Linked DNA regions of Homo sapiens: all the other regions are linked to region 3. The links come from fine-mapping of genetic effects on gene expression. A gene starts in region 3. Each other region holds a variant in brackets. All regions are shown on one strand. Distances are between the middles of the regions.

Region 1 (6,032 bases), 54 kb before region 3:
ATGGCAATAAGTCAAGTTAACTAAATCCAGCACCTGTCTTTTTCTTATTTTCCCCTGATGTTGATGATACAGTGCAGAATTCAGCAATGCCTAATACCACAGAATGTACATTTCAATCCTTCATGCTCTTCCTGTGCCTGCCCTGTGTTCCATCTAGATTCTCTCGGCCCTCCTTGCCAGCTCAGCCTGCCATTTGGAGGCCTACTTCTTTATCCCCCACCTTTAGGGTAGAGTCACATAGAAACCCTTCCAACCCTGATAAAAATCCTCACATTTAAGAACCCCAGAAAAGAGCATATAGGGATGGCCGGGTGGGGCCATCTATGGAAGTATGCTCAACCAACATGACCACAACAGGAGTGCCCATCTCCTCAGGGCTTCCATGTGCCAAGTACGGTGATGAGAGCTTTATAGAAATCATCTCATTTAATCCCCACAACAAACCTAAGAAGTGGGTATCATATCTCCCCTATTGCCTTTTACAGACAAGGCAATCGAGGGGCTAAGCCACTCACTAAGGTTATGAAACTTAAAACTTAAAGCGAGGTTATGAAATTTAAAGCAAGGTGGAGGAGGACTTTGAGCCTGCACTCCCACCACTGAGCTTCCTGCCTCTCCGGGTCTTGTTGGAGTCCCTACCCCACTCTGGACCATTAGTTCAGAGGGTTCTTGAACAAAGGTAAGAACATTGAAGATACTTCACTTGGCCTTTCTGAGTCTCAGATTCCTTATTTATAAAATAAGGGGGCATGGACTAGCCATTTTGGAGCAATTAATTGTATTTAGACAATGAATCAGATGGACTCCAACAAAGCAGATACAGTCAGCCCTCTGTACCCTCGGGTTCCAAATTTGCAGATTCAACCAACTGCAGATCAAAAATATTTGGGGAAAAAACAATAAAAATAACACTCCAACAATAAAAAATAATACAAATTTTAAGAAATACAGTATATCCACTATTTACATAGAATTTACATTGTGTTAGGTATTATAAGCAATCTAGAGATGATTTAAAGTATATGAGAATGTATGTAGGTTATATGCAAATATGATGCATTTCATATAGGGGACCTGAGCATCCCAGGGCTTTGGTATCTGTGGTATCAATCCCTGGTGGATACAAAGGGATGACTGTAGAGGATTAGATGATCCCTGAATACTTTTCAGCTTGGACATTCTAGGAGCCTTTTCTTCAGCCTCTTGTTCCAATAATTCTCACTATCTTGCTGTGCCTTTGATCTAGTGTAAATCACCTTGCACGTTAACTCACCTATTTTAATGTGCAAATTCATCTCCCAGCAGCAGCGAGATGAATTCCGTGTGTGTGGGGGTGTGTGTATGTGTGTGCTTGTTGCCCGAGGGGAGTTGAGGGATCTAAATGAGCATCCAGAGCTGCTGAAGATAAGAAGCCCAAACATAAAGTTGGGGACAGATGTGACAATGGAGTGATGCTCAGGCTGAGCTGAATCAGCACATCTGGCAGGCAGCCACCCTCATTTAAAGCAGTTCCTTCCAACCCGCTGGTGACAGGAGCCCTGCTCCAGAACTGGGGAGATCTGAGGCTGGGGTGGCTGGCAGAGGTAATCGGCAGCCCACTGTTCCCTGCTTTGCCAGCACCCTAAGGCTCCCTCCTACCTAAGCCAGGGCTGAGCCTCAGAGCAGCCAAGAAAGCCTGATCCAGCCCCAGGGCAAAATCAGACCACAGGGCAGAATGTCTCCAGGGAGAACTCCTTCATCATTTTGCCTTTTTGAAATTGAGATCAAATTAGGAGTCTTATTAAAAGGAAATAAGTCATCCAGCAGCTTCAGGTCACAGAAGCCCAGTGCTTGGCTGGCATGTGGCCACCCACAGGGCCGGGAGCTGCTGGAGGAGGTGGTGGGCAACTGGATGTCCCGCTGGGCTAGCACTCCTCTTTCTAGGGCATCAGGGAGGGTAGGGGGATGCAGCTCTGGGGCTTTAGGAGAAAAGAACTAATGACATCCTGATGAATATATGATTGGAGCTACAGTCATTGCAATCAACAGGTTTTCCTGATTATAAACTGAGGACAAACTGCAAGTAACAGAGGAGTATCTGTTTGCAAAGAGGATTTTAGAGCATTGATCCTAGCACCTTCCACTTCACACTGGGTCCTGTTGATGCCCATGCACCCCTGGCCCCAGGCCCTGACAAGGAGCGCTGCTACCCTATCCCTGAGCCCTGAGTTGCTCTGAACCCCATCCCACCCAAGACCAGTGCTCTCAGGCCCTGCTGCCATGGGGTCATGTAAGAAGGCAGGCTTCTGGCTGGCAGCTGGCTCTTGGGGGATCTTCATGTTTGCCACCAGTCACAGGAGAGAGGGAAAGGTAAACAGAGCCAAATACATGCTTGCCTTCAGTGAGACGGAGGACCAAGGAAGATAAGCAGATCCGTGAGGGTGGGAGGGGGCAGATAATGGGCTCATGGTCATTTCTGTTCTCAAAAAGAGTCGCCATTAAGTAAATACTTTCTATCTGTCAGTCACCTATGCTAGGTACTTCATGTATATTATATCCAAACCACAGAAGGAGAGGTAGGTGTTGATGCTCCCATTTTATAGAGAGGAAACTGGGGCTCTGAGAAATGTGGTGACTTTTCTGCAGGTCACACTTAGTAAGGAGAGGAATGTTTTACATGCAGGAAGAGTTAAGAACACAGCTTGGGGTCAAATTCTGACTCCCCTGCTTCCTGGCTATGTGATCCTGGGTGGGAAAGTACTATTCTGTTTTTATCTTATTTACCTGTAAAGTGGAGATAATACCCACCTCACAGTCGTTATGAGGCTTATGTTAGGGCAGGATCTTCAAGTTTTGATAGGGTGCCTAGTGCAGAGCAAAGGCACAATGCACGGGGGGTGGGGGGGCGGGCATGGTGGCTCGCATCTGTAATCCCAGCACTTTGGGAGGCTGAGGCAGGTGGATCACTTGAGGTCAGGAGTTCGAGACCAGCCTGGTCAACATGGTGAAACACCATATTTCATAAAAATATGAAAATTTGGGATACGGACGCATGCCTGTAATCCCAGCTATGGGAAGCTGAGACATGAGAATCACTTGAACCTGGGAGGCAGAGGTTGCAGTGAGCTGAGATCACACCACTGCACTCCAGCCTGGCCGATAAAGTGAGGCTCTGTTTCAAAACAAACAAACAAACAAACAAACAATGCACAGGCAGGCTTTATTCTTTCTCTCTGCGTGTCTGCAGGATGCCAGTCTATGAGGACCAAAAGCTCATTCCCTGGGAAAGGGAGTCAGCTCTAAATGGGTTTTCTTCACCTCTGATTATTCTCTCCT[G/T]TAACGGAACCCTTGGAGAGCCTCTATTTTCAAGTTATTTAGAAAATGAGACCTCTTACTTAAAAAAAGTCATGTGGTATTAAATGTCTTCTTGTCCTCAGAATATTAGGTTAGTGCAAAAGAAATTGCAGTTTTTGTCATTACTTTTAATGGCAAAAACTGCAATTAGTTTTGCACCAACCTAATACTTCTTAGTCATACTTCCCCTCAGTTCTCCAAGCCAAGAAGCTCTTATTTGAACCTATCCTTAAAAAAGTGTTTACAATAGCAGCCCGTGACCTGTTGCAGCATCTCAGCCCCTTCCTATTGTTTCCTCTCAACTCTGAACCTCAGTCCCACCTTGCGGCGCACTGGAACCACCGTCCTCACGTCATGTATGAAGACAGTGAGCAGCTCTGGACTGTCTGTTACCTGCCACCTCTGCTGTGGCTTCAGGATGGTGATGGAGTTCCATCCCGGCCACATCCTCTTTAGGATGGAAAATCCCAGCTCCTCTGCTTGTTGAACCAGAAGACTCTGATTACCTGGAACAAGCCGTGTCTCCAAGGGTGGTGTCGGGGCTCCTGGCAAGTGGAGATGAGGCCTTCTGAAAGATGGCGCTGGTATTTTCCATGCTGCCTGGAAGGTCTGCATGGTAGCATGTGTTAGGGGTAACAAGTTTGGGGCGGTGGCGGGGGTGGATCCACACTGGAGAGGGAGAATACTAGCATGTGAAACATCTCTTCCCACCTGCGAGGAGACAGAGCTTCAGGTGCAGCAGACTCTCTTCCAAATTGGAGATGACTGCTCTCGGCAGGCACTCTGGAACAATAAACATAATAACGTAATTTGACATTCCCCACTCTTTGGGGAAGAGAATACACCTATCATAGCCATTTTCAAGAGCCAAGAAGGAGGGCAGCCATAGCAGGGGAAGGCGGGGCCTGAACTTCAAAGGAGACAGGGCTGGTGGTTATGAACACAAACAGCCTTTCCGTTTTCAAAGCTCCACGGAATTCTGTGAAAACAGCAACTTTTGCACCCTCTAATTTTCTTCTTTGTGCTCTGATTAGCATCGAGCCGTTCTCCCTTTGCAATTCAGTAGCCTCTTGAAGGGTGTTTGTTTGCATGATAGGACTGATGGGCAGGTCCTGGCTAGTGGCCTGTCACTTGCTTGCCACCCAGGGCGCCACCACAGAGTGCCCCAGTGAGCTCCCTCCAGCCATGCGCAGTACATCAATCTGAATGAGGGGCTCAGGCCATTGATTTTCTTCCACCGCCCACCCCCGTCACCAAATGCCAATTATTTATCTCCGTTTCAGAAACGAAGTTCTTAATTTAAGCCAACAGCTGCCTTACCTGTGAAGAACACTTTCTTTGGGTGTGTTGAATAACATCTCCCTGGAGGAGGAGGATTTCCTTTCCTACATGCTTCAGAGAATGGCCAGCTTGATTCCTTAAAGGACATGAGCTTCATCCTTTCCCAGACCCTTCAAACTTAACCCAAATGACGTCATAGTTGACACCCTCAATCTCAAGATAGAGTCTGGTAATCTCTTATATTTGCGTAGTACTTTATAATTCCCAAAGTGCCTTCACCTCCAAAACTTCATTTAACCTTTACAACAATGGAGGAGGTAGGTTGGGCAGGTATTAGTGTTTCCAGAAGCAGTAGCCAAAGCTCAGAGAGGTTAAGCAACTTGCCCAAAGTCACATGGCTGGCAGGGCAGGTAGCAGGGTACGACCAAAAGTCTTTGGAACTTTGGTCTGGGACTCCTGACATTCACTGTACCATGAAGACCCTGCCTCCTACTCTAAAATGATTCTGTGATTGTAAGGAGCCAGAGATAATGCCACTTATTGGACTTCTCACTTAGGGACTTGCAGTCCACAGGTGACCCTGGTTTAGAGTGACCCTGGGGCAACTGGAAGGGAGCGTTGCCTCTGGGGATGGGGTGAGAGTACAAGGTGGGTTAGGGAAATCAACACATTTGCATCAGTCAGGGTTCACTGTAGAAAGAGAAGCCTGTGCTTTGGCACCTTTAGCAGAGAACAATCTAACCCATGGAACAGGGTGCCTATAGCACCACCAGATGGGCTGGAGGAGGGTGCCAGAGGGACCCCCAGGAATGATTCCCAGAATGATTCACGCAGAGTTCTCCTAACAGGGGAGACACCACCTACCACTCACCCCACTGAATTTAACGGCACATGCAGTGGCTGCAGGCCAGGAGTCAGCTGCAGGCCACCAATGATGCCAATGCAACTCTCTCTCAGCACTCCACAGCTGGAAAAACGGAGCTGAAATGCTGCTACCAACAAATCTGATGTTTCTAGCATATTGCCAGCAGAAAATAGCAAAAGGGGTAGGAAGTGGCATTAGATTGGCCACTAGTTCCCATCTAGAATCGTTGCTACAAGGGAGTCTGGGCAATGTGGCTTTTTGTGAGATGGTTTCTAGCTTCTACAGAACAGGAAAGAACATTCAAAGGAGGGTACAATGGAAGTCGAGTAAGCCAGTGCACAGAGCCCACCACAGCAGCCAGCCTAATGCCCACTCTCTTGTTACCCGTGAAAACCTGAAATGCAAACACTCTAAAAATGAGTACTTGATTCTGAAGTGGATACATCAAAGGTCTTTATTAGCATAGGAACAACACACGGTGTGCATCTGTGTGTTCCCCAAATGCACACAAACCCTGTCTCTCTCAAGAATCACTGATGTATTTCATCGTAGA
Region 2 (6,032 bases), 33 kb before region 3:
AGTCTGGAGAATTGCCTTTGATGTTAAACAACAGATCTCAGATGGTGGCTCCCTTAAGCAGGAGCTACTGGAATCTCTAGGCTTCTGCCAAGCTGACTTACCCCCAACCCCTGCTCTGAGTCTACAGCGTGTGTGTGCGGTGCGGAAGGCAAATACCATGCAAGCATGTTTACCCATCGGAGCCACTGGGAGGGCCTGGATGCATGCGCATCTCCACACTCTATGGCCACTGTTCCATACCCCGGCCCGTGCCAGCTGGCTGGCCTGCCTGTGAGCTCTCTCATCCTATTATCATCTCTAAGCAAGGTGTCCTAAAATTTGTGAGGAAATTTAAAACACAAGATGCACTTTAAAAAAAAGCAACTGAAAAATTATGAAAACTAAGACCCTTACTATCATCCCCAGCAGCTAGACAAAACAAAACAAAACAACACAAAGCCATGGGGCAGAAGGAGGTCATTACTCATAATGTCACTGGCAACCCCAGAGGAGGCTGCAGTTGACTGTTCATTCTTGCTTGCTGGCTCGCTGGCTCGCTCAGGTTCATTCAACGCAAATTTGCTGGGCAGCTCCTATGTACCAGGCACTGATTAGGAGGGAGGAAGGTTCCTGACACTTGGGAGGCTTGCCTACTGTGAGAGGCACTGCTTTAAGTATGCTGCTGCTTCCAAACCCATGGAGGCCCGGGTCAGCCTCTATGCAGAGTGACTAGAATGGGAGTGGGTGGCTGCAGCCCCCTGGGAGGCATCAGCCCTCCTACTCAGTGAATCTTGCAATACTCACTTGGAGACTTGGCCTAGCCTCTCTGAATACAGCACATTTTTAAAGATCAGACAGTTCAACAAAGACTGAAGAAGAAATGTCAATTTCTATAAATAAAAAAATTACCTTTCTTCCAGAGCCAAGTCTGTGAACAGTCCCATAGCAGTGTTGGCCTCCTTATCCGAGAAATCAAGAAATGACACCAGCGCTTCCAATAATCTGCAAAAAACCATAATAACCTCAGAGGTAGCTGTCCTCCAACTAACAACATCCCAACAGGGTAACCTTGCAAGGAAACCAAAAAAGGAGTCAGCATCCGGGTGAAATAAGCAGAAAGGGTGCCTTGTCATGCCCTCCTAGGAAGCCTAGCTCCTTGCCCACCCAGAGACAGATACTCTTAAGTGGTTGGCTCCACCACTTAATGTGAATCCCCAGAATGCTGAATACTTTTAACCAAAGTTTATTGATTATCGGACGCCAGCTCAGAAGGAGTTTCTGTGACTCTGCCATGTGACTCTGGCTCAGTCAGGTTCATTAACTTAGATGACATCTAAATGGCATGCTTACTAATCTGCTGATGACTAAAGTGGGAGGGCCCCCTAATAAGGTGGGTGACGGAATAAAGATTTAACAAGATTGTGACAGGCTGCTGAATATATTAGATTAAATTTAATAGGGTTAAGCTCAAAGTCCTCCACTTAGAGCTGGAAATTCTGCTTAAGTAACAGAATTGTGAGACCTGGTTTATAACTGGTTCCTATGAGAAAGATTTAAGGATTTTTAGCCACTTACAAACACAAAATGAGCAAACAGTCTAACACAGATGCCAAAAAACACCTGATGAAATCTCAGGCTGCCCAAACGGACTTACTGGCACCATGACAATGGAAGTAAGAGTAATTTGTTCATCCAGCAAACTTGCATTAAGCATCTATAAGGTGCTAAGTATACTGTGCTCAGTACTGAGCTCCTGGTCTCCTACAGTGATACACATGTAAATAAATAAGATAAACTGTCTTAGGTGATATGTCAGAGACAGACACATGTTGAGGGGACCAGAGTCTCACTGGTGGAAGGTGTGGGCATGGAAGTGAAGAAGCCTTCAATAGATGACACTTCAGTGTCTCTTGAAGTGTAGTGTTAGCTATTCATTCGTTTATCCATTTGACCAATCACAATGAACAAGCACTGACTGTGTACCAGGCAATGTGGTCAGTTCTGAGGTCATAATGATGAAACAAGACAATGTCCTGGCTCCAGGCAGCTTGCAGGCCAGTGTCGGGCCCACAGGGATGGGTACAGAGGCATGTCAGGCAAAGCAGCCTGTAGTCACAGACTATGTGGGCATAGAATTGCAGGAGCACATTTGGGGACTGCTGGCATGCAGTTAATGCTTAGGATGTGAGGGGAGAACAGGGGATGGTAGAGAGCTGGACAGAGCCCAGATCCTGGGGGCCTTCTAGGGCCTGCTGGAAAGTCTGTACTTTGCCCTGTTGGCCCCTGTTCTCCAATGTGTGGTTGGTGGTGGGGGTCTCTGGGACAGATTCCTCAGTTACTCTGAGTGGGAGGAAGCTCCAGGAGGCTGCTTTTTTATAAAGTCCTCATGTGATTCCTAGCCATTATATTTCTCAGTAATTGGAGAACCAGCCTTACAAGGAATAGTCATTTCAGTGTGTTAAGTAGGAAAATAGCAGAACAGATGTGCATTTTAGAAAAATCCCTTCAGTGTATGGTGGAGGCTGGATTGGAGCAGGTAGTACAAGAGGCAGGAATTCAACCAGGGGAGAACTGTGATTGTCCAGATAATAAAGGCTAAGGGACCAGACTGAGGCAGCAGCAGAGTAAGAGGTACAGTAAAAACACAAAGAGACACTCATGAAGACCTGGAAGAAATGATTGGAGACAGTAGAGGAGAACTAGAAGAAAATGAATTCAGGAGATGCTAAGGAGAAAGAGCTGGCAGCATACTATCTTATGGATGTGGTGAGGGAGAGCCAGGTCACTTCCAGGACATTGGCTTAGGCGACTGGATAGGTGGAGATACCCTCTGTGAAGACAGGAAATTCAGGTAGATGAACTGGTGTGAAGACCCAATTTTGATTTATTAAGTCGATGATACTTGTGGATGTTGTGATAGAGATGTCCAGTGGCAGAAGGGCGTTTTCATCTCACACTCAACAGAGTGAGACTTACACCCTTTGCCTCTTGACGAAAGCCATGGATGGGAAGAGGGCCAAGGGTAGGATCCTGGGGTCCCTGACTTGGAAGGGTGATAGCATAGGGGGGCTTGCAAAGGAAACCACAAAGGAATAGCCAGGAGGTAGGAGAGGGGCCAGGAAGGATGGTGTCCTGACAATCACTGTGATGGAGTTTCCAGAAGAGTAGTGATCAATAGGACCAAATGCCACAGGGCAGAGAAGGGCAGGGACTTTGACCTTGACATCTTTAAGAAAGACAGATGACAGGCCATCAGATTGGGCTTTTGGGAATATGAATTCCAGTCACCCACATCTATGGTGCTGGATCTATTTAGCCACTTATTCTAGGAGTGGTCTGGAGGCCAAATCATCAAAGGAATGATGGAGGTAACAAGGATGCTTAACCTGGAATATATCAGTATTTTCAGATATCTAAAGTACTGGAAAGCTGGGAGGAGTCTGGGCCTGGGCCTCAGTGTATGGAGGCAGAATCAGCCCCAGAATAGTACGGGGCAGGCAACTTGTGCACAGTGTAAGGAGATAATTTATCTCAATCAGAACTGTCTTGAAATGGACAGTTGGCTACCTTGGGAGGTGAGATCCACAGCCTCTCGCTAATTGGGGAAAGACTTCCTCCACTCAGTCTATTAGCTGCGTTAGTGCCCATCCCGAATCAAATGGAGATTAAAAATAATGAAAACTGCTGGCATCTCCCCTGGAGGGCACCATGCACAGGCTGTATGGGGGTACGCAGAGGACATCTAT[G/A]CTGAGTGGGGCTTGACTGGATGGTTTCTAAGGGCCCAGGTGACGCCAAGCTTCTGCAAATCCCTAACATCTTCAGGAATGGATTCCAGTGCTCCTGCTGTCAAAAATAATTTATTTGTTTTACAGTTAGTTCAGATTCATCCTTCACCAATTTAAACCTATTTTCTTCGGTCTTGAAGATGACTGCTAATGAACCTGAATAGCACAGATGAGACAACAGTCTAAGACCATCTTGGCTTTGTCCTGGCAGACATAAGCAGCTAGGCCCCCTCACTATGTGACAATGCACACATCCTAACTGGACTCAGCACCTAGAGAGGACGGTGTGTCCCTTTCTATTTCCTCACATACCCTCTTTTTTGGTGGCAGATTTTCTGCTCTGCTGATAAGCAGCTGTCTCTGTGAGTGAACCACAGGTGAGAAAATGCTTTCATGTAACTAATAAATGCAAGGTTACTTCAGTTTAGGACCCTAAACAATATACCCTAAGAGAAAATGATTATAAAAATATTATTGAGCCCTTATCATACCATGTGTCAGGCTTAATTGATGTTAGTTGCTTTTTTTTTTTTTTTTTCTGTAGCAGATGCTGTTTGCTGGCTAACCTCACAGATATTCTCCATTCCCTTCTATTCTTCCTAACTCTACTACAGAAGAAGTTGGGACCATTTTTTTTCCACTAGGGGTAGCATGTGACACAATTCTGTCCAAAGAGAAATAGGCAGTAGGTTTTCTTGATAAAAGGGACCGATCCAGCTGGTATTGACCTGTCTTAAAGAAGGATGTGAAGCTTGGAGTTGCAGCAAGAGGGAAGGTATGACCATGTGAGGAAGGTCAAGAGAAGGGCAGAGACTTGGACCTCGACGTCTTTAAGCCACCGCACCAATAGCTGCTATCTTTAGTCTCATTTTATTAGGTGACAAAACAAGCCAGGCTTTATTTTGCTTAAGCTCCTTTTGCTCAAGTATTCTGCACAATGCAGCAGAAAAAATTCAACTGCATCACCCCCCGTGTCATCATAAGTGAGTGATGCAGATGAGATGCCGGGGCCTGTCCATGCTAAATAACTTTCCTGGGTCACACAAGCAGAGACATGCAGGGAATTGAAACTCAGTACGCTTAAGACTAAAACCCAGCACTTTTTACAAAATGACACTGGCCCTTGGCCAGCACACATTCATGCCTTCAACCTCTTCTCTGAGGATAAACATTGTGGGAGGAATGTGATACGTGTGCTGCCGTGACGGTCAAGGGGCTATGTGCAGCAGCCCTGTCTTGCTTCAAACTGCCTCGTTTCATCACAGAGAACCCATTCTGTCTGGTTCAACTGGAGATGAACGTTAAGGAGGCTAGTGGGCATAAAAGTAAAAAGCTGAGGTTTCTCTGACTATCTTAGAGAGAGTAGGCAGGACCACCCGAGGTGATCATGAACGCCACTCTCCGAGACACTGGAAAAATGCACATTGAAGCTCAAGCAATTCAAAGATAGCTTGAGGGGAAAAGCTCATGATAGCTATAGCTACATTTACTCAAAGAGACAAAAACAATATTAAAAAAATACGATGAAGGTATCGAGGAAATGACTGCAGAGTCATTTGAAATGTGAAATGTGCTTTTGGGGAATTGAACTCCACTAACAATCTGCATCTGCCGTGCAGGCTGAGCTTCAGTGGGTTGCCAAAGCCTTTCCTGGGAGCCACTGAGGCTGCGACTGGGCCTGGAAGGGGAGCCGTAGGCAAGGCTTAATAACCATCCTGTCACGGCACACATGGACCTACATACCAAATTGGACAGTGTGGGAGGGCTCAGCAGGGTCCCAAAAAGATCTGGAAGGAACAGGAGCCAGTTGTAGCAGGTTTGGCTCCTTTTCCCACTGGGAACACAGAGCGGAGCTGGGTCCTCAGAACAGTACCTGGGGGCCAGCCTAGTTGGGTGAGATTCCCTTGGTTCCTTGCTGCAGTTCTTCCTGCCCCATGAGTGACATGAGGTAATAAAGCTTACCTTGCCTACCCCGCAGGATGAGGGGAGATAAAACAAAATAGCAGTGAATGAAAAAACTCAGAAGGGTCATCTCCTGTTTTTAGATTGTGTGAGAAACATTTATAAAGCAAGCTACAATAATTGCCACTATTTCTGTTAGATTGAACCACATAAAATGGCTGGCATGCAACCTTTTAGATCTAATAAGTGGCAATTTCATATGTTCAAACTAATCATGTAAAGATAAATAAACTGAAAACTTAGTAAGATAAAAGTAAATAAATACGTAAAACAAGTGAGCAAAATAACAAATAAATAAATGATTTA
Region 3 (6,032 bases):
GTGGACAGTGAGGATTATGGAACATTTTCATCATCACAGAAAGCTCTATTGGACAGCACTGGTATACATGATACCTGAATGAACTTTGAGTATGCATAAGTTAGCCAGGTTAAAAAAAAAGATGAAGAGGCAGTGGGAATGGCAAAGATCCAGTGCAGAGTGTGAAACACAGAGTATGTGTGGCGAAGTATCAGCAGTTTATTGCTGCTCAAGCGTGAGGTAGGGAGATATGAGAGAGGTAAGGACAAGGTCATGGGAGGACTTAAGTCCTGATGAGAGCTTGGGATTTATTATGACTGCAAAAGGAATCCAAGCAGAGAAGTGTCTGGGTCAGATTTGCATTTTAGATACATTACTCTGTGGGAAGTATAAGCCTGGAGACAGGAAAAACAATCAGGGGGTTGTTGACATAGTCTGGGTGAGAAGAACCAGAACAAAGGGAGGGCTGGAGAGGATGGCTCTCCAACCAAACTAGATGGCTAATTGGATGCAGGGTTATGAGTTGGGAGGAGTCCCAGATGACCTGTAAATTTCTGGATGGTGGTGTCACCAACTGAGACCAGGATGAAGGTGAGGGTAGGAGAAGCAGGTTTTATTTGGGAGGGGGAGGGCAAAGGGGAGGGAAAGAGATGATGCCTCAATTTTGGACACATTTAAGTTTATTTGTGGGATACAGTAGGTATGACAGTACCATAGAGGCAGAGGCTCAGAAAAGAAGGCTAAGTGTCCATGTAGATGTGGGGGTCATGAACAAACAGGTGGCAGGTAAAGCTACATGTTTAGACCAGCTGAAGAGAAAGGTGGCAGTGGGCCAAGGCCAGAGCTCCATGGAACAGCATTCAGGGATAAGCATTATTCATGTATCATTTACGATGTCACCCAAGCTAGCTTTAAAACCACTTTATTCCTTGAACCCATACAATCTGCTACAAGCAGCAATTTCAGCATATTGCCTGTATTTACTATGTAAGGTCTGTTTGCTTGTTGGTTTGTTTGTTTCTATACTCAAGCAAGCTCCCTGAACAGGGACTGACAGGTTTGGAAATTCCTGAATGTGATCTGTGGGATCAGAGTACATTTCTTTGAGATCCAACCTGCCTGAACTTGGGAAAGGACTTTCTTGTCTAGAGAGAGAGAAGGGAATGATGATCATAAACCATCCATGTAATTTGATGGATCCTAAAGGAAAGCCATTTGATTTTGCCTCTGCAGCTCTAAAACAGAAATGGCTCTACTCTAAAACGGGAGGAATCTCACACTGATCAATGAGGTTCTTGACCCTTGAAGGGAACAGCTGGGTTCATTGTCAATGGGGAAACAGCAGCTGGTTTTGACTGGATTCCACATAGAAGGATACAAAATATGGAAGAAAACCGTCAGCCTGAATTCCTATCAGAATGTTAACAGTTTCTCTGATACCAATTAACAGCCAGAAAATACAGCCCTGAGGCTATAACTTGTTTCTCAATACCCTTCTCTTTAATTTCAATTACATTTTTTTCCTAAGAGTTATAAACCTGTCAAGCCACCCAGGAACTTAGAGCAATCATTTATCTACTCCACTTCTCTAAAGCAGAAATTAATTTATGATTTACTAGTACTTACAGATTTCATCCACATTTTTAAGAAATTTCTGCAAATCTTTCTCTTTATCAGCATCCATTGTGAACCGGAATCCCTAAGGGATGCAGCATAATGGTGAAATTAATAATAATAAAGCACTAAACAGAACGGTCAGGCTTATTAGCCTTCTAAAACTAAGAGCCAAGTGATTATTTTTATGACAGTTTTGTTTATGTCAATGAATAACAGCAGGGTGATCCCTTTCATTCCAACTGCTGTTTTAGGCCAAGAGGCACTCATTTACGTGCGGCAATGCTTCCAGAAAGCTTCCAGCCCTCCTTCCAGTGCAGAAAACGCTCTGCAAATAGTTCTTCCAAAGCCAACATCAACCCCGGCGATTTAGGGACCTGGCATGGAGATGAGAAGAGAGCAGATGACAGGTTGCCAAGGATAGAGAAATACACTAACACCTGACTTTGATCATGACAGGCTGGTCTAGTCAGAAGCTTAAATGTGGATGTGTGACAGGTAACAAACTTGGGGCAATTTGCATCTAAATGTCCATACTTGTTTAAAATCTGCCTTTGGCTTGTTTCTGAAGAGTGAAGAAAGGGTACAAATTGACTGAAGGGATTAGAACATAATGTTACCATGCTCACCAGCGTCTCTTCTGCTCTAGGTACCTCAGATATTATTTTACAGTTGTTTTTGTGCGAGAAGGCCCCGTGGTGTACCCAGCAGTACTCAGTGGTTCATCCACAGATCATAAAAATCATCGGGAAGATTGTTAAATATACAGCTTCCTCAGCCGTAGCCCGAGATTTCAAGTCAGTAAACCCGGGACATTGCCCAGACACGAATATAGATTTTAAACACTTTCCAGGTGATTCTCATTTATGGCCAGGTTTCATAGTAGTGTAACACGCTTCTAACACGTAATCTGCCACGAACAAACTACGAGTGATTTAATCGAGTCTCAGTGTCCTCATCTCCACCAGTTACAAGCTGTGTGATTCTGGCTAAATTCACAACCTCTCCGAGCCTCAGAGTCCTCACCCATACTATGGGAACAGTAAGAGAGAAACTACGAGGACTATTCTGGGGACTGATGTAAAGCACCAGGCACGCGACGAGTCCTCACCGTGAAGCACCCTTACCTATATAAAACAGGGGGTGGGGTTGCGGCTTAACTGAATAATCGCTAGGGTTTCTTCCAGGTCAAATCTTTTCAACTCCCACGGAACAGAGGCCTAGTCCAGTGAATTAATCTGCCCAACGGTATGAAGGTTAGAAGGCAGGCGCGCGGGTGCATGGACAGGAGACAACCTCTGTCTCCCAGGGCATGGATCTCAGGGTCCTCACTGCCTGGCCAGTGCCCCCCTACGCTAGGGTGAGAGGGCCAGAGCCAGGTGATGGCGAAGCGGCGCCGCGCTCAGTGCTTCACTCGGTAGGGCTGCGGCAGCGGGGACCTGTGCCCGAGCCCCGCGCGGAGCCTGCCCCAGACGCGCGCTGCCCGCCGGGCGCAAAGAGGCCAGGCCGCACGCACTGTTGCCCAGCAACCGCTCCCAGGCGTCCGCAAGTCCCGGGCCCTCCATGCAGGTCCCAGACCGCAGCCGTCCCAGACCGCAGCCAAGACCTTCCCATGCTCTGGGGCCCAAAGCAGCGTCCTCTGCTCGGCTCTGAAGGCCAGTGCAGGACCAGCTCCCAGGGGGGATTCCGGGGTACCCCGCGGCACCGACCTGATTCGCCCAGCTTTGGACAGGAAATGGCGCAGTGACCTGCCTGGGCTGGGGCGGGGCCAGGAGCCAGGGGCCCGGGGCGGGACCAAGGGCGGGGCCAGGAGCCAGGGCCCGGGGCGGGACCAAGGACGGGGTCAAAAGCCAGGAGGCGGGACAGGGGGCGGGCATGGACACGCGATCAGATTCGCTACCGCAGAGCTCTAGCTCCGGAGCGCGCCAAGTTGAAGGCCAAAGTCGAGGTTGGGATGCCCGATGCCTGGCGCGGGGAGACGGAGGAAGCAAAGTGCTGGTAACTAAAGCAGCGCCTGCTGCTCGCCTTTTTTCTACTGAAGAAGGGTTGTCTCACTCCCGTTAGCTTAATATCCTTGCCCAAAATGTAAAGTCTCCAGTGTACTTGTGAATCCGGTTTTGTTCATTGATAAATGTGTGAGTTAGAAGACTCACACATTTATCCTTAGGAAAGTTATTTGAGTAACCTTTTTAATCCTCAGTTTTCTCACCTGTGAAATGGAGAAATGGCACTTTCTCATAAGGTTTATGGTTAAAGTGCTGTAACCGCCCAATAGGTTCACCTTGCTCACTGCCTAAACAGAGTCGATTTATCAAGACAGGGGAATTGCAATAGAGAAAGAGTAATTCACACAAAGCTGGCTGTGAGGGAGACCGGAGTTTTATTATTACTCAAATCAGTCTCCCTAGCTTTCAGGGATCAGAGTTTTTAAGGATAATTTGGTGGGTAGGGGTCAGTGAGTCGGGAGTGCTGATTGGTAGGCTAGGAGATGAACTCACAGGGAGTCAAAGCTGTCCTCTTGTGCTGAGTCAGTTGCCAGGTGGGGGTCATAAGACCAGATGAGCCAGTTTATTCATCTGGGTGGTGCCAGCTGATCCATCGAGTGCAGTGTCTGTGAAATATCTTAAGCACTGATCTTAGGTTTTACAATAGTTGATGTTATCCCCAGGAGCAATTTGAGGTTTAGAATCTTGCAGCCTCTAGCTGCATGACTCCTAAACCATAATTTCTAATTTTGTGGCTAATTTGTTAGTCCTGAAAAGGCAGTCTAGTTCCTGGGCAAGAAGGGGGTTTGTTTGGGAAAGGGCTGGTATTGTCTTTGTTTCAAAGCTACACTATAAACTAAGTTCCCCCCAAAGTTAGTTTGGCCTATGCCTAGGAATGAACAAAGACAGCTTGGAGATGAGAAGCAAGATGGAGTCGGTTAGGTCAGATCCCTTTCACCATCTCAGTTATAATTTTGCAATGGTGGTTTCAGTGCCTGGTACCTAGTCAGTAGGAACAGGTGGCACGTGACATCCGGGGAATCATAGGGTTTAGAACAGAATGAGCTAATAGGCACATTCATTCATGCCCCAAATACATGCACACAGCCCTAAAGAAATTTCAGTCTGTTTTTCTAAACAAAATCTCAGAGTATTATGTGCAGGGTTACCAATGGAAAAAAAGCAGGTTTAGGGGAAACTTGAGCTTAAGTTCACGGTCAGAAACACCCGGAACTTCTTGGCAAATGAGTGCTTTATGGAAACCTGTTTGGCAGGGAACAAGGAGCCCCTAGAGATGGAATTCGCCAGAGGGGAGAGGGATCCAGGCATGGCCAGCTAGCTCTAGTGTTGATTCCAAGTACAGCCTGTTGACTCTCTTGTGGCCTAGGCCCCATAGGATGCATGCCTGTGTCCTGTAGAGAACAGAAGAGCTGTTTGGCTGAAGTCTCTATGATGCATTGGTACACATACCATCCTGCTTGGGTACCCCTCTAATGCAGTATAACACAAAGGGGCCACGGATGTTCTGCTCCTCTTGGCAGCTGAATGGGTACAGCATCAGCAGAGTGAGTCTTTTGGCTCATCAACTGCAGCAGGAGACCTGGGGATCCCAGCAGGACATGGTCACAGTGGCTGTCCCAAGGGAATGAGGTGCCTCAGGAGAAGTAGCAGACAGTGTAGGTGCCTGGCAGGAGCAAGGACGTTGATGAGCACAGGCTAGGCACACCATAGGGATCCTCAGAAAGATATAGGGTACTTCACAGTGACCTTCCAGCCTGTGGGAATTGATGGAGACAAGAACCAGTGATGTTTTGGTTATCACCATTAGTATCACCCCATTTTCCTCTTAGGCCTGTGAGGCCTTGAATACATGAAGGCTATATGCCTATGGTCCCCAACCTCAGGGTGTTTCTTATCACATTGAGGCCAATAGTTCCAAATCACTTACTTCCTATCCTACTACTCTTTTCACTAAACTCCTTTCCTAGGTTCCAGAGGTATCTGCCCACAACTGACTGTACCACCTAACCATTCACTCACACATTTGTTCAGCTAGTGTGAGTGGCCTGTAGTGTGCTAGATGCAGCGGAAGGCCCCTGGGGTGCACTTGACAAATAGTCATCACATGCTAAGTGGTTAAGAGCTGGGGCTCTGGAGCCATTTTGCTGGGTTCAAATCTCACATCTCCACCTATTAGCATTCATTAAAATGTCTTGAAGCACCTACTATGCACCTTCTATTGTGCTATGTACTGGGGATCATATTCCTCCTTTTTTATTACTAACACTACTGAAACCTTCCTTACAAACTTTATAAAATTAATCAGGGAAGCAGGGAAGGGGAGAAATAAAATAAGCCCAGCTTGCAGCACATTCAGCATGAACCATGAGGTCAGCTTGTTCTCTGGCCTGCTTCTTCATAATTATTTAGTGTCTGTTATCTCAGAATCACGTA
Region 4 (6,032 bases), 22 kb after region 3:
CTGATAAATAAGCACATGTATTACTGATGCGGTGTCATTGTCTGGGGTAAATACTCGGGGTTCGTCATCTCATGCCAAGAAAAGTTAGGACACAGGCACACACAAGGAGTTTAGGAGCAGAGGTTTCATAGGCAAAAGGAAGAGAAAGGAGAACAGCTCTCTCTCTCTCTAGTGAGAGAGAGGGGCTTCCAAAAGGAAGGACGAGCTGGCGGTGGAGTTTTCTGGATTTTATAGGCAGACTTGAGGAAGTGGTGTCTGATTTATGTAGAGCCCACAGATTGGTTCGATCAGGTGTGACGTTTACATAGTATGTGGGGAAGGCTGGCCACCCCACTCTAATCTTATTATGCAAATGGGCTTTTCACTTGACCAGAAAGCCCTTACTGTACACTTGGCTGTTAAAGAGAAGGGAAGATGGAGCCGCCATTTTGAACATGTCTAGTCTCAGGTAGCTTTTTCCTGCTGGCATTCACTGGTGCAAGCCTCTAGCTTGTTTGTCTATGTCTGCATCTGGATTTTACAGGCTGCTCTTTGTTAGAAAATGATTTGGGGGCTGCTTTTCATTAAAAAGGAAAATCTTACTGAGAACTCCTGTACCTTCACTATCTGCCTTAGTAATTTCTTCTTAATTCCTATGCCACAAATTTTTTTAAAAAATAGTTTAATAATCGTATATCAATGCAACTGTTTTCCTTTATAATCCCATGTATTTCATTTCAAAAAATCAATACATTAAAATTTAAAATATTCTGAGACTAGGTCCATAGGCTTCACTTGACTACCTGGATTATAGCAAAAATAAATATCCCCAACAGAAGAATTCCAGGTAATAATTGTAGGTACTCCCATTTCTAAGGGGTGGAGCTCAGTTCCTTTCCCCTTGAGTGTTCATTGGATTTAGTGATTCACTTCTAAAGAACAGAGTATGGAAGGGGAAAGTAGTAACCTTTTACGTTGATGTCATAATCCCTGAAGTCATGCAATGAGAAAAGGACCTCACCTCTGACATTCTTCCCCCAGAATCTATAACCCTATTCTAATCGTGAGGGAAATCATTACAAACCCAAATGGAGGGACATTCTGTGAAATACCTGACCAGTACTCTTCAAAAGTGTCAAGGTCATGACAGACAAGGAAAGTACTGCAGTCTGGAGAATATTAAGGAGAAGACTAAGCAGAAACCTAGGCTCCTGAGAACTAGGTACAACGTGGTTCCCTGGATGAGATCCTGGCACAGAAAAAGGACATTGGCAGAGAACTGGTGAAATCTAAATAAAATTTTTAGTTTAGGTAGTATCACTCTACTAATGCTAATTCTTTAGTTGGTAAGACTTCTCTGGCTATATCAGATATAACCAAAGGGGAGTAACATTAGAAGAACCTGGGTTAAGTGTATGCAGGAACTCCTCATACTATCTTTGCAACTCTTCTGTAAATCTAATATTTTTCCACATTAAAAGTTTAAAGAAAATCCCCTACAACTTCTTGTCCTAAACCACTCTCTCCTCCCAACTTCTAGTTCATGAATTCATTTGTTTATCCATTCAACAAATGTACTGAGCAACAACTTAGTGGCATGGGGATGGAGCAGGGGCATGAAGACAATGACAAGACAATGTGAAGACAGTGGCCTCAAGGAGCTTATGGTCTTTCCTGCAAATCTGCAAGACCTGCAGACAGTTATGATGCGATGGCATGAATGCTTCAGTGGAGAATTGTGCAGTGTGTGACACAAGCATAGGAGAAGGAAGAGAAGTAGGACTTTGCCAGGTGAGCAAGGCACTGTGGGCACAGTGACGAGCAGGTGTGCAGGCACACAGGTGAGAGAACACAGTGTCATCAGGAAACTATCAGTAATTCCATCTTATAGGAGTGAGTAATACAAGGGGAAGTTGCACTCAGTGAGGCACAGAGGGAGACAGGGGGGATATTCCAAGGATTGAGATTTTGTCCTGCAGGTGAAGGTAAACAACTGATGTGTTCTAAGCAAGTGAGTCACAGATTTGCACTACAGAAAGATAAGAAACCGGACAAGGTGGAGGCTCTCCGGCTACGGACAGAGGAATGACCCCAGGCTCTGTGCCTTGCCTTCTGCTTTGAGTCCTTCCTCTATTACGTCTCCCTGGACTGGTCCTCACTGCCTGAACACCCCCATCCTTTTTCTCTGCCTCCCTGCCTTAGAGCATCGATGTAGCCTTGGATTGTGCCATTCCTTGTTGAGACAGCTCCACAGACTATACATGTATGTCCTTTACTCACCTCTCACTTGCTGACTTCTTAGTGTTGTGGCTGGTGCTCAGCCACCAGGACTTTGCCTATGGGCAAGGAAGTGCATACAATTGCAAAGCACAGATGGGAGGCGTTGAGAGACCAAGTCAGCAGTTGCCGGGTTGGAGAGGAGGAGATGAATACAAGAGATGTTCAGTAGAGAAAATCAATAGAAAACATTGACAAATTGGAAATGGGGAGAGAGAAAGGAAGGATTCTGATGACAATGCCAGCTATTCAGCTTACAGAAGCGAATGGATGGCTCTGCCCTTCTCTGTGATAGGCAACAGAGGAAGGCGGGGGAGGGGAGGAGTTGGAGGAGGAGGGATGAAGAAAGGGATAATGAGAAGCTTTGGTGGGTTGAATTCATTGTGCTGGGGAAACAGTTGTCCATCCAGACTTTGGAAGAACCATTTAGGAAGAGGATAAAGATGTGAGGTTATCCACATATTTCTAGTATCCTGTGACAATAGGGTACATGTATGTATCCATACACATATGT[G/C]TCTCTTCCTCTTAAGCCAGTTTTCACTGAGAAAAATAAAGAGCTCTGAGCATAGAGTAAAATAAGTCTTGATTCAGGTTCTAGTTCTGCCATGTCCCATTTGTATCAAGGCTCTCCAGAGAAAACCAATGTGTCCACTGAGAAGTCCTGGGAGCAATGAGTACACTACACCAGCATCTCTTGAAACTTAGGTTTCCTGAAGAAATGGCTGCTTCCAGGACTGAAGAAGAGAAAGGACGAGATGAGAATGTAACATCCTGTTGTGTCAGGAAGTAATGAAGTGCTCAAAGAATGATTAGGTCATGTAAAAACCAGAAACCAGATGGAATGGGCTCCCACTGAGTGACCGGATCAGGGACAATCTGCACATCAAAATAAATAATGAAGCTAACAGAATTCACTGAAAACTAGACAATCACTAGTCTAGTCTAGTGGTTTTCTGATAGTGTTTATCTGATAGATAAACAATCAATTGAAAGTTTGATGGGGCACGGGATATTTACAAAGTTTTAAAGTCCCTCTACACATAGCATGCCCTCAATTAATGTTAATACTACCACAATGAACAAATGCTTTTTAACTACAAAGAGGGGAAAAGAGTGACTTCACAGCAAAAAAGCCTGGCAGACACCACCTTAATCAAGTGATCCAAGTGGGCATCGTCAGACACAGGAGGATGGAGATCACGTGCCACTTGGTAAGATGAAGCCAGAGTGAGAGGACCAGCTCCATGGCATTCCTGTGAAAGAGCAGCACCTGAATTTCGTTGTGAGAAAATGTTGGACAAGCTAAAATTGAGGGTCATTCTACAAAACCAATGGCCTGAACTCTTCGAAAATGTCAAGATCGTGACAAACAAAACAGAACTCATCTTCCAGATTGATGGAGACTAGAGAGGCATGAAACTAAAAAAAATGGTGTGTTCCTGGAGTGAATGTTGAACACACAAAGATTATTTTTCTTTTGTTTAAGGATCATCAGAGGAACAACTGGAGAAATTTGAATAAGGACTGCAGGTTAAAAAATAGTATTGTATCCATGTTAATTTTTTTTGAGACGGAGTCTGTCTGTGGCCCAGGCTGGAGTGCAGTGGTGGTGCGATCTTGCCTCACTGCAAGCTCCGCCTCCCGGGTTCACGCCATTCTCCTGCCTCAGCCTCCCGAGTAGCTGGGACTACAGGCGCCTGCCACCATGCCTGGCTAATTTTTTTTGTATTTTTAGTAGAGACGGGGTTTCACCATGTTAGCCAGGATGGTCTCGATCTCCTGACCTCGTGATCTGACTGCCTCGGCCTCCCAAAGTGCTGGGATTACAGAGGTGAGCCACTGCACCTGGCCCCATGCTAATTTCTTGACATTGATTTTGATCTTGATTATGTAGGGGAGAGAAGGTCCTTGCTTATAAGAAATAGTACAATATTCACAGGTGCTGGAGCATCTGGCCAGAAATTTACTTTCAAGTGTTCAAGAAAAAGAAACATCTTTGCATTGCATTTGCATTTTTAATGTAAGTTTATGATTATGATTGGGAGTTGCTGAAGACATTTGTGTATGTGTGTGTGTGACCAGTTTTTCCCTAATCTACCACAATATTGTCCTTTTTTTCAACCTACCACAATGGCCAAAGAAGAACTCTTATTTCCAATCCTAGATAGGCTCCTTATCTCAATAAATGGCCTGAAACATTTGCTTTCTTGCTTAAGACAAAGCCTAGGAGACATCCTGACCCCCTTTTAAGCCACATCTTCCATCCAACCTACCAGCAAGTCCTGCCAAGCCTACTTCCAACACAGATCTTGAACTTGTTCTCTTTCCATGGCTGCTGCTTCCTCCCTCACATGAGCCACCCCATGTGCGTGTGAAGGGGAATTTCATAAACAGGTCCATAGGAGGCTATGATCTCTCTGTGTCCCGTGGCCACATGTCTGGCAGTAGACCTGAGGTTGAGCTTGGTCAGAAGGATGCTGACGGTCAGCTGAACTTGCGTGGAGGAGAGCAAAGGTGTGCAGGACTCATGAGCACCTCCACATTTCTCTGTCACTGCAGGAGACTATAAGTCCTTAAGAGCATGATGGACACCACGTCCTTCTGCCTTCAAATCACACATGAGTTCTTCCTTTGTCTAATTCTAACTGGAACCATACAAACAAGGGGGTCTAGGAAATGTGACTGCTAGCAAACATGTCGATGAGCGCATTCCCATTGCATCGGCCCCTGCCCATGCAACCTCAAGAAGCCATGTGACCTCACTCTATCCCATCATTCTGCTCAGGCCTCTGCAGAGCTGCTGCATTCTCAGTGGTTTACGGTGGCATTCTCCGCCAGGAAGTTAACTCGGGAGCATGGATCACATCCATTTTGGTGCCTACTGAATCTCTAGCACTAGAGCAGTGCCTTAGTCCATTCAGGCTAAAATCCACAGACTGGGTGGCTTATTAACAACGGAAATGTATTTCTTACAGTTGGGAAGGCTGGAAGTCCAAGATCAAGGCACTAGTAAATGGTGTCTGGTGAGGTCCCACTTCCTGGGTCATAGACCTTCTTCTCACTGTGTCCTCACATGGTGGAATGGGTGAGGGAGCTCTCTGGGGTCTCTTTCATCAGGGCATTAAACAAGGGATCCACCCTCATGATCTAGTCACCTCCCAAAATCCCTTAGGGGTTAGGATTGGGGGTTAGGAGTTCGACAAATGAACTGTAAATAACAACATTCAGTTTATAGCAAACAGGGAGTGGCACATGGTAATGAATAAATGCCCCCCCCCCCACTCACCTTGACATATGATTCTCTATTTTTGGATCTGCTACTTACAACAGCTTACTTCCACATGCTAATTTTTTAAATTACATAGCAATTATTAGTACTTTTTTATTTTAAGTTAAAAAAAAATCCCACACAAATTGACTTCAGTAAAGGGAATATATTGGTTCAGGGAATTGAAAAACCCAGGCATTTTTCAGGCACGTCTGGTCCATGGGACTCCAATGCCTCTGAGATCTGTTCTGCTTCCTGTGTGTTGGTTTCAATCTCAGGCAGGCTTTCCCTTGGGGTGGCACCTGGAAGCTCAAGACTTCTCTTCCTATGAGTTCCAACAGAGCTTCTTTCTTGCTAGTCATTTCCACAAAGTCCTAGGAGTGGAAGGAACATTCCCAGAGAAAAATCGAAGTACTGTTAAGAGAAGGAAGGAAAATGGATGTCCGCTGGATAAATGCATTTGTTTGCTACAGATTTGTTGTAAGGATTAAGAGATGATATTTTAAAG
Region 5 (5,908 bases), 46 kb before region 3:
ATTGCTCTTGACCACAAACCACAGCAAGCAGTTATTATAGCGCTAGTGGCTTCCTAAACTCTGAAAAGAGAATTCTACTGAGAACGGCATGTGCTTCCTGGTGGGCAGGCATGGTCCCTGCTGGAACAGAGTGTCACCCGCATCCTCTCTAACCCAGCCCACACCCCTGACAGGAATGTAGGCCTGTCATGTACACCTGAGTAATTGCCTCCGGAAGGCTTTATGAGCAAGTGGCTGAGAAGAGAATGATGCTGATGAATGGCAGATCTACCAAAAAGGGAGGAAAAGGCCCTCCCATGTCATTTTCCCATTTGAGAACGAGGACTGACTTGCTAAGGCTGTCAGGCTGACAGTCCTGCATGAGGAACTTCAGGAACCTACATCATTTTAAGAGATGACAACTGTCAAACACAGCCCTTGCAATCACCCATGTGGGGTCTTTAAAAGGCATGTGTGCACGTATGCACGTGTGATGCATGGGTATGCATGCCATCAGGAGCTTTTGGTGGGTTTGCAAAAGTTATAATGAATGACAGTCATTGTTCAAGTGGCAATCTAAACTCAGACCCCCTGTGCTGCCCCCTCAGTGTCACCCCTGCCCTAGCAGCAGCCCGCAGAGCATGCTTCCCTGCGCCACTCAGCCTGATGCTTTATGAATAAAAGCCATGTGTCACCACACTAACATGGGTGTATGGACCTCATGGGCACACACATCATAGGTGGGATTCTGAGATGGCAGCCTAGTGTATTAATCCCCTTCGCCCTTGCAGGTGAATCCAGATAACTGCTCTACTGGCTTGCTTAGATTCACCACACTCATCTCACAGGGAAATCCCAACATCCTTTGGTCACATGGTAATTCTGCAGGCTACATGTCTCATAGATGGAGTTCCATCCAACACTCTCCAGATAACTGTATAAAGCATCATGAGTAGCAAAACCTGAGCAGAACAATGTGCCTGAGAAACGTTACAGAAAGCCACTCAGATCATTTTTATCAAGAACAGTGGCCATATATTTTTAAGTCAGGCTTGAGGGGTAAGCAGGTTTTATAGATGTATCTAATGAACAATTTTCTTATTTATTCAACAATCTGTTGTTGATGTTCAGAGTATGGTCTGGGTAGACAGGCAGAAGCAAATCCCTATCCAAGAAGTTTAAAATCTAGCAAGGAAGAAATGGCAGCACATTAACCAAACAAAGCCCACCTTAATTCTGTTCCCCGAATAAAATAGGAGACTTCTGTACATTTCAGGGGTTGTAACCAATAAAGTGATCTTACCTTCAGGAATTTCATCATTTTCTTTACCACTCCTGCTCGCAAGGCCTCCTCAACAATTTTCAGAGAGGAAGAAAGGGTCCGGCTCAGAACACCAGCAGCTCTCTGAGTACAGCAGAAAGAGGATAATTAAATGTCCTTTTCAGAAATGCTGACAACCTTTAAAAGCTAACGGGGAGTTTGGTGAGGCAAAAGCAATCATTATATTGGAAGCAAAATATAAAAAATATGATGGCCAAATAATAGAAAGCACTGTTCTTTTTAATAAAGCTGTCAAGGAGCTGTAATCATAGCCCCTTGCCACCCAGAGGCCCATATTATTTCAGCTTCACACAGGATCAACCAGTTCCACTCTGAGAAAGGAAGTTCTCCCTTGTGATTCCTCCCAGAGCTCTGATATCAGCAGGCCCTTTATAAGGAGATGTTTGATTTCCTGGATTGGTCTTCTGTGTCATTTATCTTTATCTTTTCGAATCTTTGTCTTTTGTTCTAGTTTCTGGGATAGTTCATTTACTTTATTTCCCGGCTCTTCTTTCTTTTTTTTTTTTTTTAAATAAATGCCAAGCTGTTACTCTTTTATGGATATAACTATCTTAAATCTTTCTCAGGATACAAATGATAGTTACTATTTTTTTCTTCTGTTTCCTATATCATCTCTATTTCTTTTGGATCAATTTTTATGTTTATCTTGGTTTTCCTATTTATGTGTGTAGCTTTCCTGCAATGTCTGGTTGACCCTTTACCTGCCCAATCACATGTATGAAAAAAGCAAGAAAATATGTTTGGGCATGCTATGTTTATGGGA[A/C]GTTTATCAGAAGTATGGAAAGATATAGAGGTGGCACCCCCGTATACTAGAAAGAAAAATGTTTTCTCCAGTTTTTCAGTTCTTTAGAGATAAAAGTGTTCTGATTTTATGCCTGGAGGATAGATGCCTGCCAGCAAACGCAGCTCCACTGCCTTGTACTTCTGCTCTCTGTTGTATCGGGAGTTTTGAAATCTTCATCCTCTCCAGGGTATTATAAGGCAAACCTGCTACTGCCCAGCTACGTGTTCCTCCATTTGTACTCCATACAAAGGTTTCCTCAGCCCTGCCTCATTAATTACCACCCTTGCAGCTGTTCTCCATCTTCAGGAAACTTGTTAAAATTACTTACCTATTGGTAACCATTGCCTGTTCACTGTCAACGTAGGTCTCTACTTTTTTTGTTCCCCCCCAATGGCTTTAATCTCATTTTAATGAGGTCTCCAGAGGGAGAAAAGATAAACTTGTGTATTATCAATCTTGTTTCCCTAATCTGCTTCCTAAAGATCCTAGAATTTTGCTATAGTTGACACCACGGATCCCCTTTCAGGCCCAAGACAGTGGAGACTGTGCTAGACAAGGACCAGATGCCCATGGTGAAGCTGCTGCTCTGCTCAGCAAGCTGGGAAGCACCCAACGTGGCACACAAGGAATGCTGGGGAAATCTGGCCCAAGAGCTCTCCTAAAGGTTTACTCAGGCACTAGTGTAGGCTCACCTTTAGGTCTGGACCATCCGGAAACGGTGGTGCTTACCACTTTGGGGGTCATAGACCTCTTTTGAGGATCTGATGAAAGCTACGATGCCCCGTCTGTGAAAATGCACACGCACAAAACCTTTGCCCTATCCTGTCTGAATTGACTTTGGGGACGTTTAAAGAGTGCTACCCCCAAACAGGGTATGTTGGATCTACTCAGAACATTTTTTAAACTGTGGAGGCAGTCCTCAGTCTGCAACCCTTGAAAGGCTGGTTTCCCAGACCCACCCTAGATGTGGCCCTAATTGCTTCCCTAGCCATTAGGGTCCTGCCCTGACAGGGAGAAAAACGGGTGATCACTTAATGTGAGTGAAGAATACGTTCTAGGGTGATGGCAAATAGCCTCTTGAATCATACTAATATTCTTCTCCTGATGCACTGTGCTAACATATAGGCCTTTCTCAGTTTTCTTATTCAAATGTCAGACACAGAATTGAGAAAGCCATTTCAGCATATATTTTAAAAAGAGGGTAAAACTATTATGCACAAACAACCTCTAGGATCACTGGCTTAAAATATGGGCTTGGCTTTTTTTTTTTCTTATGGAAAAAAGGGATTCTAAATAAGTTGGACACTTGATCTGTCCAATTTGCACAGGATATTTTGAAATAGGACAGATCGGATCGATTATATCATCTAAGCTGGTTAAATTTCAGACCATACGGAAGGGGGATTCTTAAGTTGGGTTCCTGGACTCTAGGGGATCCACAGATGACGGACACAGCAAGGAGGTCACCAAATCTCTGAAACTGTAGACAAAACCTGGTATTTATGTGCTTGTGTACATTATTCTGAATAGTATATCCACACCATATCTCAGAGTCAGCAGATTCTCAAAGGTGGCAACTTCAAAAAGATTACACTGATAATAAAACAAAACAAAACAAAACAAAACAAGAACAATGGAAGCTGCTTCTGGATTTCCCTGGGAGAAACTTACTGTCAGGATTCCTCCATCCTGGCTGTTTAGTAAAGACAGGCACCTTCTGCTCACCTCCACAGCCCAAACCTACAACAATGGGGAGAGGCCAGCAGGAGATTTTAATTTTCTGACAATCTGAATTCTCAGCGGAGCTTCTTCTGAGCACCGTCTCCTTTTTAGCACCACCACACTATGCCCAGGTTCCCTCACAACACCATCTTTTACTGCTTTTATTCCTCCCCATGTCTGTCTCCCCTAACTCCAGGGCATTACCCTGATAGCAGGAACCGCCTTTTATTTGACTTTGTAAATGCAGCACCTCATACTCTGCTCAGCACACCTTGGATACCCAGTCTGTTTTCTGAGTGAATACATGACTGAGTGGTGATCCATCCATCCCTCAGCAGAGCAAAGGGAGAGCGCATCCCTCCAGCCTTTTCCCATTCCACGGCCAGTGTGTGAGTGTACATGCTTCTGTCTCTTCGTGAACATGAGAATGGTTTTATGCCACAGAATGTGTACAGGTTGTCCCAGGGCTCCAGGCAGGGAGACAAGAATGCCATACCTCAGAGACAAAGGGAGCCTGAAGACACAGGTTCATCATGAGTCCCAGGAGTGTGTAGATAACCTCTCTGAACAGGTCCACATCCTCCTCACACCTGGCCTTGGGAAACAAAACAAGGTAACCAATGACCTTTTTGCCTTACAGCTTTTTATGGTCATCTTTTCCCTTGGACAAGGGTCTCAGAGTTCCCCACACTCCCTAAATTGCCAATGTCATGAACCTAAATGATGGTGGAGGATCAGAGACCAGTTCTATGAGTTAGTGTTGGTCCAGGAGACTTGGAAGGAGTCTCTGGTGCCTCTGCCATGGGACTATGGCTGAGGTTGGTCCTGGGTTTAAAGTGAAGAGTCAGCTGCTGAGACGGGTGATCATTCAACTCCACCAGAAAAATCCTTCAAATCAGGATCAGGCAAGATGGCTAACTAGATACAGCCAGGTGGAACAGCTCCCACTGAGGGACAGAGATGACTGACATGCTCCTAATAGATCTTCAAAGGGAAGGCACTGAGAGTAGATGAAGGGAAGATGCAGAAGCAGGGCAGAAAGGGAGTAACTGGGAATGCTGCATGCAAGCCTATGTACCAAGGCTTGTTCTTGGTCCCCAAAGGCTCTTGGGGAATGGGTGAGTTGAACTGGCAAAGAGCAACCTGATCTCATCATAGGCCTCTGGAACCCTGGCAGGAGAAATCCCCTTGACCAGCACAGACACTCATCGAGTTGTCAGGGAGAGCTGCTTAGAGAAGTGGTAGGGGTGGCAAGCCAGTTGATGTGGAGCCCAGAGGGTTGGGCGTAGAAGTGTCTGTAGTGGAGAATGGCCAGGGACAGCCATCCCCACTAGGCTCAACTTGCTCCCACAGGAGACTTTAGCCCTCGGGGAATCATCAGACCTGAACTCTGCAGGGTGGTCTTGCCCATCAAACAGGGCCAGTCCAACTTGAGGACCCCTTGCTCTGCTGGCCTCTCCTGGGGCCCCAGCCAGGCCACACCTGCTTGCTGAGCAGTCTTGGGGGCTCTGGGGGCCCACACCATAGCTTCTGCACTGGCAGACCATGCCTGACCAGTGGAGAGCACCAGCAGAGTACCCCATCACCATGCACCAGCCCACATGCTCCCTCCCCACACTGCAGCTTCCCCTGGGCCCAGGGCAACTCCCCACATCACTTTGCTGGTGAGTGTCTGATCAGGCAGGTTTTGCTTTCCTTGCCCTGCCAGAGCACGGGAGTGCAGTCCTGCCCCTCCTCTTCCCACTGATCACCATTGCAGATGGAGTCTTGATGGGCACAGCTAGCCCCACCCCTACCAGCACCTTCCCCTTGCCCTTGTGCTAGCATGGCATAGAGTATAGCAGATCCTTCTCCCCCTAGGAGCAACCTCCTCTGCTTGTGAGGCACAGAGAAGGCACAATCTTCAGCATGACCACACACACAGTCATCAGCAGGGACCCTCTCCCCCAGCTGCGTTGCCTCTGCCATTGTGGCAAACACCCGCAGGGAGGCAGGCACCCTGACACCTGCTAGCACTCTGCCACAGGTCTTCTGCTGCTGTTGGCATGAGTGAACAAGTTAAGGTCCCATTGTCACCACAT

What was found. PIP is the estimated chance that this variant, and not a neighbour inherited with it, causes the effect.
Region 1: its variant is the best candidate, but not a certain one, in a credible set for the expression of TTC12 in unexposed skin (GTEx, PIP 0.52).
Region 2: its variant is the best candidate, but not a certain one, in a credible set for the expression of TTC12 in NK cells (Schmiedel 2018, PIP 0.71).
Region 4: its variant is the best candidate, but not a certain one, in a credible set for the expression of TTC12 in whole blood (TOPMed, PIP 0.84).
Region 5: its variant is the best candidate, but not a certain one, in a credible set for the expression of TTC12 in whole blood (Lepik 2017, PIP 0.77).

Annotation. Positions count from the first base shown.
Region 1 is chr11:113,366,271-113,372,302 of GRCh38, reverse strand. TTC12 (tetratricopeptide repeat domain 12) reads right to left here. Exons shown (of 22, transcript NM_017868.4): 22 at 5,916-6,032. The coding sequence ends at 6,003. Among named protein-coding and RNA genes, the nearest start is that of ANKK1, 18 kb to the left of the region's middle. The variant G/T (reference allele first, on the strand shown) is at 3,316.
Region 2 is chr11:113,345,022-113,351,053 of GRCh38, reverse strand. TTC12 (tetratricopeptide repeat domain 12) reads right to left here. Exons shown (of 22, transcript NM_017868.4): 14 at 889-981. Among named protein-coding and RNA genes, the nearest start is that of TTC12, 33 kb to the right of the region's middle. RefSeq lists an enhancer at 5,884-6,032. The variant G/A (reference allele first, on the strand shown) is at 3,726.
Region 3 is chr11:113,311,889-113,317,920 of GRCh38, reverse strand. TTC12 (tetratricopeptide repeat domain 12) reads right to left here and starts at 3,338. Exons shown (of 22, transcript NM_017868.4): 1 at 3,303-3,338; 2 at 1,606-1,678. The coding sequence starts at 1,663. It overlaps TTC12-DT (TTC12 divergent transcript), which reads left to right and starts at 3,465. Exons shown (of 5, transcript NR_199709.1): 1 at 3,465-3,591. RefSeq lists silencers at 2,968-3,067, 2,960-3,254, 3,278-3,527.
Region 4 is chr11:113,290,062-113,296,093 of GRCh38, reverse strand. The region is part of intron 1 of TTC12-DT (TTC12 divergent transcript); the gene reads left to right. Among named protein-coding and RNA genes, the nearest start is that of NCAM1-AS1, 19 kb to the right of the region's middle. The variant G/C (reference allele first, on the strand shown) is at 2,771.
Region 5 is chr11:113,357,877-113,363,784 of GRCh38, reverse strand. It overlaps TTC12 (tetratricopeptide repeat domain 12), which reads right to left. Exons shown (of 22, transcript NM_017868.4): 17 at 4,324-4,422; 18 at 3,777-3,845; 19 at 1,283-1,384. Among named protein-coding and RNA genes, the nearest start is that of ANKK1, 27 kb to the left of the region's middle. The variant A/C (reference allele first, on the strand shown) is at 2,085.